Linked DNA regions of Homo sapiens. The protein of the gene in region 2 binds, or shares a complex with, the protein of the main gene of each other region. Each region holds a gene or a part of one and is shown on either strand. Other genes may lie near its edges. A codon is read from its position in the direction of its gene.

Region 1 (7,737 bases), on a different chromosome or scaffold from region 2:
TGTCTTGGAGAAATTTCTATGGCATATACCTTGGCAACAGCTCCATGGAAACAGACTGAAGTCTATCTAATAAAGTCTAAAGAAAAAGCCCATATTTTCTCATGTTAACTCTTTGAACTCAAGGTCACTTCTAAGCAGATAATATGCAAGTCTGTTTTTTAACAGTAACCCAGTTGGCAGCTTAGGGAGCTTATCCATCATCAGACCTCGCCTGTGAAGGACTCCACCATTCATGAAGTAGATTGATATAGCAGATTTATACAGCCATAAAATTATGAGTAATATCAAGAGACTGACCTTGGTTATGTCGAGATGAAACATACAAATCACATATGGCAATGCATGAGAAATCTCATGCCAGCCCCCAGTCTGATTACACCCACCCATATCGCCAATTCACAGTTTCACACAGGCTGAAATGAAGAACAAGATGAGTTGTAAAAGCATGAAACACCTTTTTAATACAAATCCTGCAACTACAGTAAGCCACAGTTTTGAATTTGCAGTCGTTATTACTGCCCGAGCTCTCTATGGCTCCCAGTCAAATAACTGTGATTTCTTAGGGACATTACCTCCGAACATAAATTCACTCAGCAAACATTTACTAAGTGCCTGTTGGGCACTAGGTATACCAGAGAAATAAGAAAAAAATGAAGATATCTCTTTCTGTCTTTAAGGAGAGCCTCAAAGAGAAGATTTTTGTAAATGGAAAATTACAGAACTGTGAACAGGAGCCATGGGAGCACAAAGGAAGGAGGAGTCAACTGCAGGCTGTGGAGTTGATGAAAGCAACACACTGAAAGTGATATTGGAGTTATGTTGACATTTCCTGGAGTAATGACCCACAACCCTGCAGTATCTCTTCCCCGTGTTTCCCCATCTATTACTGGTATATAGCTCCCACTCAGGGCTAGCACTAGGCATAAATATCAAGTAGACTGAGTCTTCTTTCATAATCTCATATCCTTTTCCAGCCAATATCCCTCAAAGCCCAGGAATGTTCAGTTAGGGTCCTAGCAGGAAACAGCCTTCAAGCCAGATGGGTCATGTGAGGAGACCTTAATGAAGGGACTCCTTGCAGAGATATGGTCAAGGTTAACGGAACAAACAAGGATGATGGGCATCTGCAGGCTAACAACTATGGGAAGCCATTATCACCCCTAGGGCTTAAGAGATAAGAATAGCAAATACCGTTACTGAAGCCCAATGGGAGCTAGAACCATGAAGAAGGGGTTATTCAGGGAAGACAGCATTACAGAAGAACATAGCTACTGCCAAAGACATCACAGAAAGTGGGGAAGGAGCAAGAAAGATGTATCCCAGCCTCTCTTTCCTCCCTGCTCTCTGACATCTCTCCTTTCAGTGTCTCCCATTGTATGAACCCAAGCAGAAATCAGCTTGCAAGAGAGTCTAGGTGATGCAGTCTAGCAGTCAGCCTCAAGGACACAGAACAGAACAGAGAAGGATGCACTCTAAGGAGTCAGAAGGAGAACAGCCAGCACCAAGTGACCTTCCCTTGCCTTTATAACTTACTTGTTTTATTTCCTGTCCCCCCAATTATCAAAGTGACAAGTCTTCACACCCAAAGGAGCAATGACATTGTGGAACAGCCCTGGACCGAGGGCCAGAAGATCTGCAGTCTCCTTCAGGTTGCTCCTTATGTGAGCGTGGTCACTCTCTAGGCCTAGAGAAAAATCTAGGCCTCATCTTTAAATGGGGATATTTTCTTCACCTACTACAAATAGTCAGTGAGATTGTCATAGGAGATAATATGTTTAAGGAATATTATTCCATATTATTGGAGAGTTCTTTGAGAATCACATGCAGGTAATATATAAGCTTTATTATTTCCAAAAATATCACCCTTTGCCTCTCTCCTCCTTTCCTCTTTCATCTTCTGCCTCTTACCCTCACCCCCAATCTTTCCCATAAATGATGACACTTTCTGGATTAAATTTTCATGGAAGCAGAGACTATGTTTGTCTTGTTCGCTGCCATATCCCCCAAAGTGCCTGGCACATAGTAGGCCATCAATCAATATTTGAACAATTAATATATGGATTTTTTTTTTTTGAGATGGAGTCTCACTCTGTCACCCAGGCTAGAGTGCAGTGGCATGATCTCGGCTCACTGCAACCTCCGCCTCCTGGGTTCAAGTGATTCTCCTGCCTCAGTCTCCCGAGTAGCTGGGATCACAGGTGCGCACTGTGCACAGCTAATTTTTTGTATTTTTAGTAGAGATGGGTGTGCCGAGCTAATTTTTTGTATTTTTAGTGAGATGGGGTTTCACTATGATGGCCAAGCTGGTTTCAAACTCCTGACCTCAAGCGATCCGTCTGCCTCGGCCTCTCAACGTGCTAGGATTACAGGTGTGAGCCACCACTCCCAGCCATATGATTTAAAATTTTTTTATTTGTATAAATTTATGATGTACACATGCAATTTTGTTATAGCATAGATTGTGTAGTGGTCAAGTTGGGGCTTTAAGGTATCCATCACCCAAGTAACACACATTGTACCCATTAAGTAATTTCTAATCATCCACCCCCCTCGCCCTTCCAAATCTCCATGGTCAGTCATTCCACTCTCTATGTGCATGGGTGATTTGAAAGAACTCCTTCCTCTCATGTTCATCAGTCACACCTATGGTGGTGGCCAAGTCTAAGTTCTGGACACTGCCCACCAGTACCAGTCCTCAGCCCAGGGAGCAAGTGATTAGGGCAGAGAAGCCTGGTGGTTCTAGCCCATGGGCCCTTTCCCCTATTTGAGGCAACAGAAGGCATTTGCTTCCCCAGTGACTTGAGCTCCCCGAATAATGAAAAACTCTCCCTTCTACTTGATTAATACTTCTCACAGTCAGTAAACAAACCCAGAGCCATGGTTTTATCTTTCTTGGATCTTTTATTACAGGTAGGGCTTGTGTTGAGGAAAAACATAAATAAACCTGAACAATGGATCTACTCCACTGTTAATGCCCCTGAAACTCTGACTACATCCTCATGAGACTCTGGAAGTTAGAAAAGAGGAGAAACAAAAGTAAAAGAAAAAATATGAGCAGAAAAGAAAGGAGGCCATGCTCAGAGGGAAAGTGAGGAAGTTCCAGAGTCTTTCTAGAACGGCTCCCCCTCCCTCAGAAGGTGGTGACATCAAAATCCTACAAATATGAACTGGGAAACTGTTCAGGCAATCCATTGCTCCTGGAGTCTGAGTGTAATACATACACGTTTCTGCCCCTGGCTTCTATATTTTTCACCACAAGTTTTAGGAAGAAAAGCTGTGCCTTCTAGGCTGCCTCGACTTTGGAGTTAGGAGAGAAGAGGACGTGGGATACTCACGGGAATCGCTGTGCTTCACCATTAACACAATGATGAGAGGTAACAGGAACGCCATCAGTTCCCCCATAGTCCTTCTCTTTCCGGGTTCTTTTAACCAAAAACTGACAGGTCCCTTCTGAGAACCTCTTGGTGACACACAAGGCCTTCTCCCAATAAGAACAGGGGAAGATATGCAGTGTCATCAGTTGCTAGGTTAAAAAAAAAAGATAAAATGAAAGCATGAACACCTTCTTCGGTAACTTTTAAGTCTTTGCTGGTTTCAGACACTGCTTGCTCCTTTTGGTGTATCTATCTTCACCCTATTCCCAATTTTTAAATATTTATGGAGCATAGTCATGTTCAAAGCACAGAGAAACAAAGATTAATCATATCTGGTCAATCAGGGAGCTCAAGCTGCTGCCTCTGCTTCCCTGGAGCTTAGAATTTTGCTTAAGGGTCAGTAAGAAAGAGTCACAGTTCCCACGGCTTGGAACTCCCTGCTCTGGCTCCCTATGATGCTGAAGTCTCTGTCTGAGATAGCAGGTGTCACTTAGATTGTCCCGTAATCTTCAACTTAGGTCTGTCCTCCCTGCTACTCTAGCACCCAGCACAATAAGCTCAAAACACTTACTGAATAAAAGAAGGCAAGAGAAAGGCCTACAGAAGATTCTGAGGGGCAGCCACTCAGCTTGCTCAATCAGCAATCCCCAAGATCAAGCTGTGGCTACACTGTCATAAGGAGCACATGACAAGCTGGAAAACAGCAGCTTAAGCTTGTCCAGGGAGCTAGGGAACAGGCCCAGACAGGAAAGAGGAAGTAGACATGAAGGGGAGAGGTGAATGGAGGCATGGCCATGAGGCAGGCAGGCTTGAGCTGGGTTCAGGGACCTGGGTTTGCCTCCCCACTATTTGACCATGGGCAGAATCCCAAATTGCACCAAGGCCTGATTTCTTCAACTTTAAAAGCAAATCCTGTCATATATTTCACAGAGTTGTTGAAGGATCAGAAGTTCTGTTTATGATGCATTTAGTAGGTAGTAGAACCTTATGTACCGGTTGTATGGTAGGTTGAGAATTGTCGCCCCAAAGATGTCCACAACCTAATTGCCAGAACCTGTGGATATATTACCTTAAATGGCAAAAACAAAATAAAACAAAACAAAACCCTTGGCAGATATGATTAAATTAAGGATCTTGAGACAGAGAGCTATCCTGGATTATCTGGTGGACCCAGTGTAATCAGAGGGGCCTTATTAGAGGGAGGCAAAAGGGTCAGAGTCAAGGAGATGTGACAATGGAAGCAAAGGTCAGAGTGATGATGCCATTGCTGAAAGAAGGACATGAGCCAAGGAACGCAGATGGCCTCTAGAACTAGAAAAGAGAAGGAACAGATTCTCCTTAGAGCCTCCAGAAGGAACACAACACTTTGATTTCAGCTGATAGGACACATTTTTGGACTTCTGTCCTCCAGAACTTTGAAAGAATAAATTTGCATTGTTCGAGGCCACTAAGTTGGTGGTAATTTGTTATAGCAGCAACAGGAAACTAATAGGTCTACCTTTACCCAGAATAAAATAAGAAGCCAAATAATGAAATTAACATTTGGCAATCTCTCAGCGGCCCCTGGCACCTTCTCTTCTCAGATCTTTGTATTTCTCTCTTCCTTTCCTTTCTGTTTCTTTACATTGTTTTTCCTTTTGTTACTCATTTAACAAATACAGTCACCTGGATTTCTCTTTTGGAAAACTCCCCCAATATTCCCAAATGTCTCTCAGCACTGGAATTCCATGGCCATGTATTTTTTCCTTTGAATTTTTGTTAATATCTTGTTCCAAAATGCATTCCATACCATAACCTGCTGTACTGACATTAAAAAGTAGGTATGAGGCCGGGCGCGGTGGCTCACGCCTGTAATCCCAGCACTTTGGGAGGCCGAGGCGGGCAGATCACGAGGTCAGGAGATCGAGACCATCCTGGAACATGGTGAAACCCTGTCTCTACTAAAAATACAAAAAATTAGCCAGGCGTGGTGGTGAGTGCCTGTAGTCCCAGCTACTCGGGAGGCTGAGGCAGGAGAATGGTGTGAACCCAGGAGGTAGAGGTTGCAGTGAGCTGAGATTGTGCCACTGCACTCCAGCCTGGGTGACAGAGCAAGGCTCCATCTCAAAAAAAAAAAAAAATGTAGGTATGTCAACGATGTCTTTCTTTTTTTTGAGACAGAGTCTCACTCTGTCGCCTAGGCTGAAGTGCAGTGGTGCCATCTCGGCTCACTGCAACCTCCGCCTCCCAGGTTCAAGCAATTCTCCTGACTCAGCCTCCTGAGTAGCTGGGATTACACACCCAGCTAATTTTTGTCTTTTTAGTAGAGATGGGGTTTTCCCATGTTGGCCAGGCTGGTCTTGAACTCCTGACCTCAGGATCCACCCACCTTGGCCTCCCAAAGTGCTGGGATTACAGGCGTGAGCCACCACACCTGACCGATGTCTTTCATTTTTTAAGTCATTGTATTCTAATTGCAAATTAGTAAATTTAATCCAGAGTACAGGGCAAATACATATAAAAAACCCAGAGAGTGATAAGATAAAAATCACCCATCAGAAAAAATTGCTGTTGGCCGGGCATGGTGGCTCACACCTGTAATCCCAACTTTGGGAGGCTGACGTGGGCAAATTGCTTGAGCCCAGGAGTTCAAGACCAGCCTGGGCAACATGGTGAAACCCCTATCTGTACTAAAAATACAAAAAATTAGCCAGGTGTGGTGCATGCGCCTGTAGTCTCAGCTACTTAGGTGGCTGAGGTGGGAGGATTGCTTGAGCCAGGGAGGTCAAGGCTGCAGTGAGCTGAGACGCCACTGTACTACAACCATGGCAACAGAAAGAAAGAAGGGAAGGAAGGAAGGAAGGAGAGAGAGAAGGAGGGAGGAAGAAAGGAAAAAATTTGCTGTTAACATATTTTAGTGTATTTCTTTTCAGTGGTTTTGCTGACTACATATGTCTGCATATAAGCATACCTTTATTTGTTCATTTTACCAAAAAAGGGTTTTACGTCCTAATAGTATTTTGTAAATTCTTTTCAAATTTATATTTTCCAATATTAATATGCAGTTTTTAATAGCATAGCTTTAATAGTCCTTAAAATTTTTAATAGATTCAATTATGCCAAGATCTTCAAGGACAGGTAAGACTGCCCCACTAAGCTGGGAGGCACTGAGGTAGGGAGAATCCCTCGCATTCTCTTTGTGGAAAAACAAGCCTCACCTCTGAGCAATAGTCTAAACTTAAATCTCAGGCCGCACTTTTCAGAGTGGGTTGTGCTTATCCTGTTCATTATAAATCCCTTTATGTGTTTGGCTTTTTAATACCTGATTTATTATATGTATTTTAAGGCCCCTCTGAGGAATCTGACTCATTTGCAGTTAGTGCAATTCATCCTTAAAAACCAAATGATGAATTATCAAGTTAGCAAAAGGGTCTTGTTTGTTAAATAATGTTGTTTTCAACATAATATATTTTATTATATTTAATCAGTAGTTTCCCCTTGGCTATTTCTTTTTTAATTCAGTAGAAGTGTGTGTGTGTGTGTGTGTGTGTGTGTGTGTGTCTGTGTCTGTGTCTGTGTCGAGTTTGATTTGAGCCCTTTTCTGTGGGTAGGTAAAATCCATTTGCCAATTTTTGGCCAAGGCTAGTCCTTGTACAAATGGGAGTAGAATACTGTAGCAAAGAACATGGGTTCAGGAGTCAAACTTATTTTCAAATGAGGCTCTGACATTTCCTACCTATGTGACCTTTGACCAAATTATTAACTTCTCTAAGTCTGGGATTTCTCATAGAAAATGGAGGTAATAACCAATTCTGCCTTACAGGATTATTGTGAGGATTCAATGAAATCAGCAGTGGTGGAACCAAGAAGTGACTTGTCACTTGTTGGGGCATTAGAGTACTTTTACTACACACGCATAATGGCCATCAGCTGTCTTAAGTAATCCCAAATAAACCTATAATTTAAGAAAAGAGGCCAGGCGCAGTGGCTCACGCCTGTAATCCCAGCACTTTGGGAGGCCAAGGTGGGCAGATCATGAGGTCAGGAGATCGAGACCAGCCTGGATAACATGGTGAAACCCCGTCTCTACTAAAAATACAAAAAATTAGCCGGGCGTGGTGGTGGTCGCCTGTAGTCCCAGCTACTCGGGAGGCTGAGGCAGGAGAATGGTGTGAACCTGGGAGGCAGAGCTTGCAGTGAGCAGAGATCGCACCACTGCACTCTAGCATGGGCGACAGAGTGAGACTCCATCTCAAAAAAAAAAAAAGAAAAGACAGGGGTCTCCCATGCCACATCAAGTCCCCTAGCCCTGCTGTCCAACCAAATTACATTCTAAAACCTGCCCCATATGGGGATTCTGGAGCTTCTGAAGATAATGCATGTG
Region 2 (8,336 bases):
GGCCCCAACATTTCTCTCTGCCTTGACCCCCCACCCCTCACCAGCCCAGCCTCAGAGCCCTGGGGACCCTGTGGCCCCTCCTCTGGCTCTGCCCAGCTCCCTGGACAGAAGCCCTTGATTGAGTCCCTGAAGGGAATGGGATCCTCCTGGACACTCAAAGCTGCCCTGGGGGTCGCTGCGCTCCCTTCGAGCCAGAGGCCTCAGGGACTCACCAGGTGTGGAGATGGGACCGGTGGGTGGGGGGCTGGAACCCATGGAGGGTCCTGGGTGAAAGAATGAGAGGAGGGTGAGGAGCTGGGGCTTTCCTGAAGTCTCCACCTCAAACCAAATTTCTCTACATGGGCCCTGTGGCCTCCCCAGGCCCCTCCCTCCACCCGCCTCTCCTGTCCATGATGCTGGCGATGCCGCTGAGTGTGCGCAGGCCTGGGAGGGCCTGTTGTCCTCCTTCCCTCTGAGGGTGAGTCTCCCACTGGCTGAGCCCCGCTCAGACCCCCGCTCACTCCATCCCAGCCCAGAGCTCTCCTGGGGGGCAGGGCCTGAGCTGAGCCTTTGAGCTCAGAGAGGACAGGGTCAAGGCCCCCACCTGAGACCACGAGCTCCAGGGGCTCACTGGGGTGAGACAGCAGGTAGGGGTCGGAGTTGAGTGAGCCGTAGCACCTGTAGGTCCCCGCGTGGGCTGAGGTCACAGGACTCATGGGGAATTCAGCCTGGTACTTAGGATATTCGTGTATTGATCTTAGACGGAGTGGGGCATCAGCTGCTCCCGCCTTGGTCAGAAGGAAAGTGTGGAACTGCCGCCATGACTGACACAGCAGGGTCACGTTCTCTCCTGAGGCCACTGTGGGGCCTGGCTGCACTGAGATGAAGGGTGTGCCACGGATCTGTCCTGGAGAGAAGAAGGATGGGTGAGGGGCTGCCCCACCTTGCTCTGAGCTGAGACCTCCCCAGGCCTCTCTAGGAGCCTCTGTCTCTGTTTTCTCTGAGTCTTCCCCTCCCCACCCATCCCCTGTCTCTCTCTCTGTCTCTCCCTCCCTTGGGACCACCCCCCGCCTCATCCTGGCCATCACTAATTGGATTCCCCCGGCAGGGCCTGTGCAGAGTCTGGGTCCCTGACTGAACCCGCTGGGCTCCTCACCTGTGATCAGGATGTCCAGGGGGTCGCTGGGGGCCGAGCACTCAGAGGAGAGGTTGTGTGCACCGTAGCATCTGTACTGGCCCCCGTAGGAGCGGCTCACAGGGCCCAGGGTGAAGTTGGCCTGGGAGAGCCCAGCCTGGGGCTGCCGGCCAGGGAGCTGGCGAAGGTCACGTTCCCCCTCCTTGTACAGAACAAATCTGTCATAGCCGACATCAGAGACACACTGGAGGGTCAGGCTTTCCCCAGGGGCCATGACAGGACCCGGCTGCACTGAGAGTGATGGCTTCTTAGAAACACCTGGGAAAAGGTGCTCATGGTTTCCAGGAGCCGACCCTCAGGCTTCCCCACAAACCCTCCCTCTCCCCCGGTGCCTCACCACTGCTGATCTTCCTGTGTCTCTGGCCCCAGGACCCCTGAGCCCTCTCGCCCCAACATCATCCCACCTGGAACTGCCCTGAGACACGGCTGCTCCCCACCTGCCTGGAGACTCAGGGAGACTCAGGGAACTCCAGACAATGCTGTGAATTTCTCACCTGGGACCAGGAGCTCCAGGAGATCACTGGGTGAAGACCACACATAGGGAGAGTTCAAGTCATAACCATAGCACCTGTGCGACCACCTGCGATTCGGGCTCACGGGGCCCACGGAGAAGATGGCGCGGGACGACCCACGGGCATGGGGCTGGGAGTTCAGGCATTGTGGGTGTTCATCTTCTCCTTCCTTACACAGAATGAAGCCGCCAAATGCCACCTGTGACTCACACTGGAGGGTCACCCTTCCTCCTGAGGTCACCACAGGGCTGGGCTGGGCTGAGAGGGTGGGTTTTGGGTAGGCTCCTAGGAGAGAAGGAGGCATCGTGTTAAATGGGGCTCCCACCTCCCACATCATCCCCAGGGCTGGGCTGTGAGAGGGAGACACCCCTGAGAGCCTCCTTCCTGAGGGCAGAGCCTGGGGCTGGGATCCCTGAGTGTCCTCTCACCTGTCATCACCAGCACCAGGGGGTCACTGAGCTCAGACCACCGAGCGCGGCTGTAATACTGACAGCCATATCGCCCTGTGTGTTCCCAGGTGATGGATGGGATGTGGAACTGGCCGTTCTTCACAAGCTCTGGTCGTATCCGTGTAATCCAAGATGCTGATTTTTTCTCCCTATATAGACGGTACTCCTGGGCTTCAAGGCTCCCCTGACAACTGAGGGTGACGGGACTCCCCTGGGTGATCACAGAGTCTGGCTCAGCCCACAGGGTGGGCTTGGGGATGGTCCCTGGAAGGAAATCAAAGGTCAGATTCGAAGTCATTTCCCACCCAACAGATCTCAGCTCTCAGCCCAGGACCCTCCAGATGCCCCCATCAGTCAGTCCAGAACTTCTAATCCCCATCCCCAGCTGCACGGAGGTGGCCCCTTGTCCCCAGTGAGGAGGAGGGACCTGGGAGAGCTGGGGACAGACTCACCTGTCTGCACGCGGGTCCTGGGGCCCAGACTCAGCCCTGGAAGAGAGTTCCCTGTGAGGGATTTGCCCCCTGAAGCCTGAGCAGGTCCTCCCCTCCCTGGGATCTTTGTGAGCCCCTGGGGTCTCCTTAGGGACCAGAGTTTGGCTGTGGGGTGAGGTCCCTCCTAGGTTAGAAGCTCCCCTCTCTCTTCAAATCTCACCGAGACAGATCAGGACTGTGACGATGGGGGTCATGGCGTCTCCTCCCACTGCCCTGCTCTGCGGATGGATGAGCCCTCGGTGCTGGCGGGACAGAGACACACAGAGAGAAATAGCCTCCCCTCCTTCCCACCCTGTGTGGACACTCAGAGGCTGGGTCCTTCTCATGGGGTGTTGTCATCTGCAGCCACACAAGAAGCGGAACTGCCCTCCCAGGAGCCTGACTCTCATTCTTTTAGAGCTGAGGTGGGGGCAGGCACTGGGCCCTCTGCAGACATTTCAGACTGTAATGGGGTCTTTCCTGACCCCCAGCCACTGTCTGTCTGGTTTCTCCTCGTCTCACCGAGAGCCGGGATGTAGCAGCAAATAGAACTGGTGCTTCTTGTGTCTGCCCTTCCTGATGAGGGTAGCAGTGGCTTCCCCTTCCTTCTCACAGCTTCCCACATGGTCACCCTCCCTCCTTCAGCCCATCCATCAGCACAGCGTTGTGGGGTCCTTACCATGGCAGTCGTCCCTCCAGCCCTGGAGATGCTTCAGGGAAGACCCAGGTCCATGCTGCAGGCAGACTCAGATCAGCAGAGAAGCATCTCGCCTCTGGCTGTGCTGTCCAGGTTGAGCTGTGTGTGGCAGTGAGCACAGAGGAGAAATGCAGGGAAGTAGGGGAAGAAAAGTTGACTTCTTTCTTGACACTGGATTGTGGGTTTTCTTTCAACCAAATAGTCCCCTCTTAACTTCCCCTTTTTAAATGTTTTTGCTCCAGCGTCCACTCCCTCCCCCCCGGGAAGAAACCTCTGAGTCTTTCCTGCCTCCTCGGTGCCCATTGCGTCCTTAGCCGTCCCTCTGCACCTCAATTCCTGGTCAACATTTTGGGAACAATGACTTATGTTTGAGCTTTGATTTGGGGAGTGGGGGAGGGAGTTGATATTTATTTGATGACTGGTTATCATCCGCTGCCTACGTGACCTTGGTTTGTAATGTCCCATCACTGAGCCTCAGTTTCTTCCTTTGCAGATTGTTGTCATGAATCCCACTCGTCACAGTGGTTGTGGGGTCAGTGGTGCCTGGGACATTGGGAGGGGCTCATTTGTGCTTGATTTCCAGACCAGGGTAAGACCTGAGGCTTTGGGACGTGAGAGGATCTTGCTGTTGGACTCCACATTCTGTAGGTGATTGATGAGTCCACTCAAGATGTCACATCTGACCGTAATGGAGAAACGTATGTGTAGCATTTCTGAAATACCCAGAGTATCAAGGTCATGAGCAGAAAAAGACATGTGGAAACCCCAAGTGTAGACGGACTCACAAGAAAGAACAGAGGCCAGAGGTGAGATGCCACAGGGTCCCGGGACCATCAAGGGCTCATTAGGGTGGAGGTTTCCACCACTGAGTGGAGCCGGGAGAGGAACCCCGGGATCTGCAATGACAGTGAGGGGCTCAGGGCTCCAGACCAAGGTGGGAGGCTGCGTCCTCTAGCTACACCTGAGGCTGGAGTGGACCCCAAGCAGCCCAGGGGAATTCCCTCAAGGGAGTGCACCAAACTGTCCAGACCTGCTGGAATTCCAAGGAAAGAAGCACTAAACACCAGGGTGTTCATAGAGCATTTATTAGGGGGACCTCTGCACAGTGGGGCATCCTTGTCTTCTTGCCCAGTGTCTCCTTGTGGATCTCAAGGATGTGCTTCCACATAGCAGCATGTTCTTCAGATGGACAAGGAGACACTGGGTATTCTATCCAAAGCTTTAACCTAAAATAAAAACAAAACCAAAAATAAACCCCTAGAAAATATGATCTCTCAGTACAGTTGTTTCTTGGGATACACAGGCAATTCGTTTCAGTACCCCCTACATGTACCAACACTTGCTCGTACTCCAGCCCTGACGTTGTCTCTGCTGGGTCTGCATATAGGAAAAGTCTGCCGTTCATATACGCAAGTCTTGTTTCTCACAAATGCTATAGTTTTGATCCCCGTTTGTTTGGAAAAAGTGTGCATATAAGAGACCCCTGGAATTCAAGGCTGCATTGCTCCAGGGTTGCCTGGATTTTGAGTTTATTTGGGAGTGAGAAGCAAGGATTACAATATGGAGTGCATGGCATGGCAAGCCACAGTGTGTCCAGAGAGGGAAGTGTGATGTTGTGATATATGCTGGTTTTCACCCGCAGTTCCTGGCTTGTAACTCCCATAGCCCTTGTTATAGTCTTTTGTTATAACATTGGCTGTGCTGGGCCTCAGGGGAGGCCTCTGACCTCCTCCTGCCCTTCCTTCACCTAACCCAAAGTAAGACTCGAATGTTCCCTGCCTTTCTGATAGTGGATCTTAAGACCCTCCCAGAAGACAGTCTCACCCTGTTCCTTGTGGGAGGAAATGCTGATGTCATGAAGCTTTCATAAAAGCCCCAGAGGACTGGGTTTCATGAGTTTCTGGGTGGCTGAGCATGCTAAGGCTCCTGGAGGGCGACGCCCAGGGAGGGTATGGAAGCCCCGGGCCTCTTCCCCCATGCCTCCTCCTATGAGTTTCTTCATCTGTGTCCTCTGCAGTGTGCTTTGTATTCAACCAGGAAATGTCAGTGTTTCCTGAGTTCTGTGAGCTGCTACAGCAAATTAATCAAACCCAAAGAGTGGGGCATGGGATCCCCAACTTGAAGCCAGTCAGTCAGAAGTTCTGGAGGTCTGGACTTGGGAATGGTGTTGGGGGCAGTTTTGGGGAATGGGCCTTCAATCTGTGGGATCCGGGACTGTCTCTGGGTAGACAGCACCAGAGCTGACTTAGAGGACACCCAGCTGCTGTTCGCTACTGCGTCTGGGGAAAAAAACCCCATACATCTGGTCCTAGAAGTCTTTTTCTGTGTTGATGATTCCTGTGACGTGAGAGTAGAGGAAAAGCACCGTAGAGAGAGCTCTCTGTACATAGAGAGGTAAAGGAAGTTCTTATCAGCAACAAGGGAGAGCCTGACAGAGCTGCCTGGAAACAGAGTTCCCTGGTTCCACAGGTTCAAAGCCAGAGTTGCTGTCAGTCCATTGGAGGAGATGCTGTTGCTGGTCAATGGTTCTCTTGAGAGCATCTTATCTGAATTCCTGACGTCCTAAAGAACATCTAGTGATAAACCTTGTCAAAGCAGAAGGGGCTGAAGGACATGGAAGAGTTTCTTATGGGTTTTTTAAAAGTCCTTAGAAACAGTTCTTATCTGAGACGTGGAAGCATGGGCCTCCTCTCCTTCAGGCCTTCCTGGCCCTGTGGGGTCTGAGTTTGACCAAAGTCATCTCATCCTTGCACCTGTAACTTTTCTATTGGGAGTCTGCAGTGAAGGGATGGGGTTACGAAGTTTAACCTGAGAGTTTCAGGAATTTGGTTCAGGGGAGGGCTTGTTTCTACACTTTTAGCAAAAGGGTTAATTTTTCAGTGTTTTCTAGAAACAACCTAAAGTGCTTTATCAGTACTTGGGGATGCTCAAGACCTCAGCTTGGGTTCCAGCCTGCAGGTGGAAACATGCATCTGTCCAACCCACAGAACAGTCATGGCCCTTTGTCTCACTCTCAGAACAAGGAAAAAAGTGGAGGAAACTGTGGGACCTTAGAGACTGTGACTCCCCCTCTTCTGTGTTTGTGGACAGACCCTGGGATGACTCAGTGACCCGGGCTACACTCAGCACTGAGCCACCTTCCCGGGTGTGCATGACACAGATGCGCTTTATCATTGTTGGACCGGGCATCTCTGACCCTGGAGTGTGAGGCTCACATGGACCCCGCCATGCCGGGCATAACACAGAGGTGATTCTAAGCTTGGGAGCATGGACACCGCAGGGCAGGAGCGGCTACAGCAATGCCCTCATCAGCTTTCCTTCCTGAGTCAGCCTGGGGAGAAACCCTATATGGAAGATCAGGTGTGTGGGAGAAAAACCCACCCCAGAGGAATAAAAATCAAAGAGTCCGTTAGAGAAAAAACAGGCAATTGTAGAAATGAATTAGGAAGCTATTGTGATGTGAAAATAGTAAATTATATTAACACATTTAGAAATAATTTCATCCAGAACAAGACACAGCTGAAATGATAAACATTGTATTGGTGTAGAATATTTACTAAAATTTTTCATTAGTCATCAGAGAAAAACTAGAAATGAAAAAAATAGAAAAGATAATTAATGCACACAAGAAATGGAATGAAAAGAGGAAACAGATATCTCTCTTTGGATCACACTTTCAGAATGAAGGAAATAAGGAGTATGTTATTCAGTAAATACTTGCAAAGAAAATGGTTGACATTTTTATAGAAATGAAGAAAGAACATGAGTTTAACGTGAACAAATTCATAAATAACATCAATGTCTTAACTATGATAGAGTAAAAGATACCTAGAATAGATACAAAGTAATTTTAAAACTACTGGAGAAAATGAAAATTATTGTCCAATGAAAGACAAGCACATTGGGACTGGATTTCCCAAGAGTAAAAAGTGCAAGAAAATGACTGGGGGCTGAGGTTCAAGTTGGCTGAATGGAAAGGGCTGGAGTCTGCCTACTCACTAAGAGGACCCAAAATAGCGAGTAAATACCAACAGGTCAAGTGGATCTTCCAAGAGGATGCTGGGGTTCACCTGAGAAACATGAGGACATGGAGAGAAGAGAAGAGAAAAGGTGGGAGCCAGGAGAGGCTCCTAACACGGGGAAGGGGTGAGTGAGTGAGAGATTCACCAACACGGGGAAGGGGTGAGTGAGTGAGAGATTCCCCAACACGGGGAAGGGGTGAGTGAGTGAGAGGATCCCTAACACGGGGAAGGTGTGAGTGAGTGAGAGGATCCCTAACACGGGGAAGGGGTGAATGAGTGAGAGCCTCCCTAACACAGGGAAGGGGTGAGTGAGTGAGGGGTCCCTGGCATCTACACCTCTGCTGTGGGCCCTTAGGATCCTGCCCACAGGAGAGCGCCTGTCCCCTCTGGGCCTCCAGAGGCCCACAGTTTGCTCCTGGAGACTGTACCAAGGCCCCACTGGAGCCCACGTGGAATCCCACAGGCTTCTGATCCCTGAGCAGCCTGGGTCCAGCTGCCACTGCCTTAGCAGGGAGGGAGGAGGCCAGGCACCTCTGTGGGCCCCAGAATAAGTATGACAGCTGGGGCACAGGAGCAGCCAAGCTGAGCACCACACAGCTGCCCACCTCTGTTGCTTCCTGCGAAATGGGGCTTCCTTCCTGCTAATGGGGCTTGCCAGCTGCAGGGCCCCAGTCACCCGTCCTGCCCCCACCCGAACACCGTGGCCCTGGCTCGGTGCCCTCTGAAAGCCCAATGCTCAGAGGCCCCTGACAAGCCCTTTGCAGTCACTGCCACCTCTGCCTCTGCCCCTGCTGCCCCAGGCCCAGGGAGGGTGTGGGGAGGCCTGGCACTTTCACGTGTCCCCAGAGCAAAACCGAGTGACACTTCTTCAGGAGGGAAGTGTGAGCGGGCCCTGTGCCTCACAGCTGCCAGTCTCCAGTGCCCCAGCCGAGGGGCGCTGCCCTCCCTAGTGACAGGCCCACAGCACAGCCACCCTGCCCCCACCTGGACATTTCAGCTGCAGCCCCCAGCC

What was found.
Region 1: the proteins of LILRB2 (region 2) and MR1 are in contact, whole or in part, in a crystal structure (PDB 9C9D), measured with the Homo sapiens proteins. Residues at the interface, in NP_001074447.2 of Homo sapiens: Tyr61 (codon at 2,289), Arg62 (codon at 2,286), Glu63 (codon at 2,283), Lys64 (codon at 2,280), Gly97 (codon at 2,181), Gln99 (codon at 2,175), Leu109 (codon at 2,145); in NP_001372090.1 of Homo sapiens: Thr213, Phe214, Pro215, Glu267.

Annotation. Positions count from the first base shown.
Region 1 is NC_000001.11:181,029,673-181,037,409, reverse strand, and holds the start of MR1 (major histocompatibility complex class I-related protein 1 isoform 1 precursor), read right to left. Parts: upstream 3,428-7,737; 5' UTR 3,403-3,427; coding exon 3,336-3,402; intron 414-3,335; exon of another isoform or gene 298-413; intron 1-297. UniProt on the Homo sapiens protein: Antigen-presenting molecule specialized in displaying microbial pyrimidine-based metabolites to alpha-beta T cell receptors (TCR) on innate-type mucosal-associated invariant T (MAIT) cells.
Region 2 is NC_000019.10:54,277,677-54,286,012, forward strand, and holds the start of LILRB2 (leukocyte immunoglobulin-like receptor subfamily B member 2 isoform 2 precursor), read right to left. Parts: upstream 3,435-8,336; 5' UTR 3,285-3,434; intron 3,208-3,284; exon of another isoform or gene 3,128-3,207; intron 2,953-3,127; exon of another isoform or gene 2,869-2,952; 5' UTR 2,821-2,868; coding exon 2,787-2,820; intron 2,624-2,786; coding exon 2,588-2,623; intron 2,400-2,587; coding exon 2,115-2,399; intron 1,972-2,114; coding exon 1,669-1,971; intron 1,433-1,668; coding exon 1,136-1,432; intron 887-1,135; coding exon 584-886; intron 264-583; coding exon 213-263; intron 1-212. UniProt on the Homo sapiens protein: Receptor for class I MHC antigens. Recognizes a broad spectrum of HLA-A, HLA-B, HLA-C, HLA-G and HLA-F alleles. Involved in the down-regulation of the immune response and the development of tolerance.